Linked DNA regions of Homo sapiens: region 2 is linked to region 1. The links come from fine-mapping of genetic effects on gene expression. Tissue or cell type: nucleus accumbens. Region 1 holds a variant in brackets; the other region holds the start of a gene. All regions are shown on one strand. Distances are from middle to middle.

Region 1 (2,768 bases):
AGTAATATTAATTGTGCATGTGCAGTTGTATTTCTCATTAACTGACAGTATGCCCATTTGTTTTTATGGCTTTCTTATCTAAACTGCACTGATGAACTAGATTAAAGCCTTGGGAGATTTATACTATAAATTCAGTGATGGCAAGAACCAACACTGTTTTTTTGTGAGAATTGTCAGTGTAACTATTACCTACCAGTATTGTTCAGAGAGATTGAAACAGAATAAACGGGCTGTTCTTGAAGAAGCAAAACCAGAATATGCATTACTTTGGTTTAATACTTAGTGCTAACATTGAAACTGTTGGTGGTGATGGATTTTGTAGCTTGCTGCTTGTTTCACCACTGGTCAAATTTTAACCATTAAATTGCCATTCACTTTTAGAATCTTGTATTTAAGTTTTGATTTTCAAATGTTCTGCTTCATGTGTCTGTGAAGAATTGTACTTTAAGTGTGTGTCCTCTGAGGTGCTTGAGAAAGTGTACACTGCAGAACTGCCCATTCTCATTACTGTGTCCTATTTTATTCATGCCTGTGTGTTTTTCTTAAGTATGAATTCTAGATACAGCTACTTATGGATTCATCAATATCATGAGCACTTTTGCTGGTTCCAGTCAAATCAATGGCATTTAATAAATTTTTTAAGAAGTAAAAATACATGTTTGAGAGCCTTATATTTGGGAGTTTTGTGTTGTATTTTTTTTTTCCTTACAGTGCTAGATTCTTTCCCTTAATTCCACACAGAACCCATCGCTACAATATGTGAGCAGATGAAACCCTGATTAGTCCCAGAATGCTACGAAGGGGAAGAGGAGGACGTTTATTAGAGTATGCTGAGCTGCTGTGGAATGACAGAAGTAAGTCCTGCTCTTTTTCTGGGGCTGTGAGACATTTCAAAAACAGCCATGCAGACCCCTCCCATAGACGACATGAATGAATTAAGAGTCTATATAGGACCTGCTACAGGCGGCTTTCACAATTCCACTTAAACACCTGTGAGCAAAACAAACAGGGCTAACATATTCCTCACTCCACTCAGCAACTGAGACACCATGACTGCAAAGGCAGGGGCGCGGTTTGAAGTTTAATGCCTGCTTGGCATTTCAGCCATCATCTCTAGGGGTATGAGAAACTCGAGATGGTTTCCTTGTTTTATTAATGTTCTTAT[T/G]TGGAACTTACTGGCCCTTTCCCCAGATACATGTACTTACACAGTAATATTAATAATTTAAATTAATTTGAATTTGTAAAAATGACGCCTTGTACTGAAGAAATGTAGCTTTAAAGGGTATATGATATAGTAGAAAGTCCTTAGGGGGATATATTTTTTTAAAGGAGATTCAACATTGGTCTGTTTATAGCTCATTCTTAAATTGATGCTTCTAAAATGTATGAAAATATACCTATTTATTTTTTCCTGTCAGCTCAAAAAGTCTCTTTGCAGTTAGGCTTCCCCTGATCGTGCTCGGTAAAGTCTTTCTTCTTCAGCATCGAACCACTGTAGGATTTCCCACCACAGTCCTCCTGTGCGTAGCAAGTTAATTTTGATACCAGCTATGAGCACGTTTCTGACAGCAGGTAGGTTTCTTGTCTCCCTAAAAACAGCATCGCTATTCTCTGTACTCTGGGAGACACTTTTCTTTTTGCAAGGATACCTTGGGAAAGACCCGCCTAATGACAAAAGCACGGGACTTCTTGTTACACCAGGGGTTCATTGGACTGATAACCTTAAAAGTCTTTCGGATCTCAGAGATGGAATCTTTTTGCAAGTTACACTGTGTGATTTCAACTCAAAATGTTTATTTCCTGCCAAGAATCAAGTTGCAGATAATTCTCTTACAGCTTTTTTGAAGAAAACAAAAACAAACTGTAGAACTATGATGCACTCCAAGTGCCATATATCTATTTTATTCTTCAGGAAATTATATTTTTCTTTTACAAGAGCACAACAGGAACCAAAGTAAAAGAGTAATAGATACAGCACTCAGGATAAATCATATCTTTAAAATAATAATAAAAAAATTTACACCTTGTCCTATATCCTGTTAGTATTTTCATAATATGGCCATGATTGAAAAAACAAAAAGCAAGCATCTACAATTTTTTTTGATAAAGACTTTTTATGCCAGGAATGGATTAATTACCAACAAAATTTATACTAATCAGGCTGATGTCAATCTATTTTTGTAATGTATCATTAACAAATTTATTTTGGAAAAGATAAAAATATTGCCCCTTGATAATAAATCTTTTTTTCCTTTGATGCAAACAGCTAGAACACCTTTTTCTTTTTCTTTTTGATATTCTAAGACAAAAAAATGGTTAATCTTCAGATTAATAAATTAGGTCATTATAATAATAAATTAATTTTTTTTAAAGTTCAGCAACCTCTGTCCAAGTATTTACAACAATACTTGAAAGTTCCTTTACAAAACAGAACACATTTTCTTTTCACGTTAAGCATACTGGGTATCTGTGTCTTTCACAACAAGCATTTTTAAAAGAAAACTCAATGCACAAATGGGTTAATTAGTATAAAAGTGCTAAGGGCTGTTTGAAAAGTTACCACTATAGTATACAGTCAGTTATATTTGAGGCATACTACAACAAACTTCCAGCTTATTGTGGACAATATTCCAGTAGTTGTTTCAAACCATTGTTTGAAAAAAAAAAAAAAAAAATCCAGGAGCTGATTAGTGATGCAGATAAGAACTGCCATCAATGTCTCTGGCCAGTGAGCAAATTGAAAACCAACTGAAAGCAAATCCAAATGA
Region 2 (2,768 bases), 47 kb before region 1:
AACAGGCTTTGTGTGAGCAACACGGCTGTTTATTTCACCTGGATGCAGGCGGGCTGAGTCCGAAAAGAGAGTCAGCGAAGGGAGATGGATTATCATTAGTTCTTACAGGTTTTGGGTCAGGCGGTGAAGTTAAGAGCAATGTTTTGCGGGCAGGGGTGGATCTCACAAAGTACATTCTCAAGGGTGGGGAGAATTACAAAGAAACTTCTTAAGGGTGGGGGAGATTACAAAGTACATTGATCAGTTAGGGTGGGGCAGGAACAAATCACAATGGTGGAATGTCATCCTTAAGGCTATTTTTACTTCTTTTGTGGATCTTCAGTTACTTCAGGCCATCTGGGTGTATATGTGCAAGTCACGGGATGCGATGGCTTGGCTTGGGCTCAGAGGCCTGACAGCTAGATTTTGTATTTTTAGTAGAGACGGGGTTTTACCATGTTGGCCAGGTTGGTCTTGAACTCCTGACCTCAAGCGATCCGTCCACCTGGGCCTGCCAAAGTGCTGGGATTATAGATGTGAGCCACCTCGCCTGGCCTACTCCAATTTTTTTGTATTGTAGTAAAATAAACATAAAATTACTATCTTAACCATCTGTAAGTGTATAGATCAGTGGCATTCAGCACATTAACACTGTCGTGGAACCATCACCACCATCCATCTCCATAACTCTTTTCATCTTGCAAAACTGAACCGCCCAATCACACTTAGTTTTTATGAGGTCTAAACAATTTCTTGTTACTCTTATCACTCCGACATTGTAAGCCCTGTGTATGGGGCACCCATGTATTAGTTATAACATACACATAGGGTATCTACTATTAGGCATTGCTCTAAGTGCTTTGCAAATGTTAACTGGCATAATTATCTTTGTATGTTCTGCAGGATCTAGCCAGTGCTTTGCACGTGAGAGGTAAAATATTTGAGGAATGAACTTCGGTACCACCTAAACATTTCCCATTGACTCTGGCTGTTATTCTGGTTGGCAAGTTAGGAAAGGAGCAGGTTACCTTGGGGAAAACGACTTTCGGGGCGTAATCTGATATTAGGTCGTAAGTTTAAAGAAGTCCTTTATTTTAGCCACATTTAGGCCAAGTTGCTAATAAGGGAAGCTAACAGGGAAGTTATTCCTAAATGATAGAGAATATAGGAAGTGACTCAAGGCAGTTAAGGTCTTGGCTTTCTAGTAGCACCGCGTTCAACTCCAGGAAGACTCAGGCCACCGGAGACCCAGGGTTGGGACAGCCTGGGATCTGTCAGCACGGTAGCGGGCGGGGGCGGGGCTTCGGGCCGGGGCGGGGCCGGGCTGGGCGGGCTGGGCCGGCCTGGGCGGGGCGCGCGACTGCTCCGGGCGGCGATGGCGGCGGACGGGGACTGGCAGGATTTCTATGAGTTCCAGGAGCCGGCCCGGAGCCTCCTGGACCAGGAGAACTGTAACGCGAGCCCCGAGCCTGGGGCGGAGGCGGGGGCCGAGGCGGGTGGGGGCGCCGACGGTTTCCCGGCCCCGGCCTGCAGCTTGGAGGAGAAGCTGAGCCTGTGCTTCCGCCCCTCGGATCCGGGCGCCGAGCCCCCGAGGACGGCCGTGCGGCCCATCACGGAGCGCAGCCTCCTGCAGGGGGACGAGTGAGTGCGGGGCCCCGGCCGGGAGTGGGCGGGAGCCTCCCCTACCCCTCGCCCGACCGGCAGCCCTACGGCCGCAGCTCCTCCCTGCGCCCTCCTTCCGCCCGGACGCGGGAGTCCCCGCCCTCTCGCCTCCTTCCTCCGGCCGTCGGCCTCGGCTCGCCCAGCAATTTAAATCCCCTGCCCCCCGCCGCCACGAGCCCTGAAAACCTCCGCCTCGGTACCTCCCGCCCTCCTTCCTGCAAACCAAACCCTCGTTTGTATTAGAAGGGAATCGCCCATGCAGAGCCCATAGTTAGAGACGGCACCTCCTGGGGCACCTCCTGGGGCACGTGTGTCGCCATTCATTCACTCAAGTCGCATTTATTAAGCACCTGCTGAGTGCCAGGCGCTGCTTCGCACAGGGAACACCAAAACGACTGGGCACTGTCCCTCCCACTTAGGACACAACGTAGGATGGGAGATAGATTTGTAAACAAATACATGTATGGATGTAATTAGCGCTGCAATGGTTATATGTACCAAATGTGAGAGACTTAAAAGCGTGTGTCTTGGGGAGAGTAAGGAACGACTTTATAAAGAAATGTGCAAACGAGATCTGACTGATGAGTGGGAGTGTGCCTGGCAGGTGGAAAAAAGTCTAACGTTCTAGGTGGAGTATATTGCCTGTGCATAAGTACCAACGTGCGAGGCAGCATTTAGGGCACAGGAATCTGTGGGACCCACCCGGGAGCCCTGGTAGAGTGCGAGCCGCCACAGAGACGAAAACGAAGGGCCCTGCTTACTGATGGTAACGATCGCATGGTCTGGTGGGGAGACCAAGGCATACACAAGTAATATTAATAATTACAGAATCACCTAAGAGCAATGATAGGAGGTTCACGGGGTTTTATCACAGCTGGGAGAGGTGAGGCGCAGAGTTCCTGAGGGCACTTTTTAAACCACCTGAGCCGCAATTATAATTTGGTTAAGTAAGAGTTGTAATTAGGTACCATGGTTTTACCCCCAAAAGATGGTAAATAGGAATGGTGAGAGTAAAGGGACTTGAGCATGTTGTGTATATAGGGGGAGAGGAGCCTCCGGAGAGGCTGAAGGTAAAATGAGTGGAATAAGATTGGGCGCGGTGGCTCACACCTGTGATCCCAGCACTT

Which allele goes with the higher level. Positions count from the first base shown, and alleles are read on the strand shown. Sizes are in standard deviations (SD) of each study's normalised expression.
For the expression in nucleus accumbens of the gene that starts at base 1,329 in region 2, G is the low allele of the variant in region 1 and T is the other (moderate effect, 0.66 SD a copy in GTEx).

The links. PIP is the estimated chance that this variant, and not a neighbour inherited with it, causes the effect.
Region 2: FEZ2 starts here. The variant in region 1 is fine-mapped to the expression of FEZ2 in nucleus accumbens (GTEx, PIP 0.93). The same link has a PIP of 0.9 or more in sun-exposed skin.

The regions. Positions count from the first base shown.
Region 1 is chr2:36,550,142-36,552,909 of GRCh38, reverse strand. CRIM1 (cysteine rich transmembrane BMP regulator 1) reads right to left here. Exons shown (of 17, transcript NM_016441.3): 17 at 1,775-2,768. FEZ2 (fasciculation and elongation protein zeta 2) reads left to right here. Exons shown (of 8, transcript NM_005102.3): 8 at 1-652. Among named protein-coding and RNA genes, the nearest start is that of FEZ2, 47 kb to the left of the region's middle. The variant T/G (reference allele first, on the strand shown) is at 1,166.
Region 2 is chr2:36,596,729-36,599,496 of GRCh38, reverse strand. It overlaps FEZ2 (fasciculation and elongation protein zeta 2), which reads left to right and starts at 1,329. Exons shown (of 8, transcript NM_005102.3): 1 at 1,329-1,620. The coding sequence starts at 1,355. RefSeq lists enhancers at 334-1,260, 1,261-2,188 and silencers at 1,261-1,480, 1,521-1,880.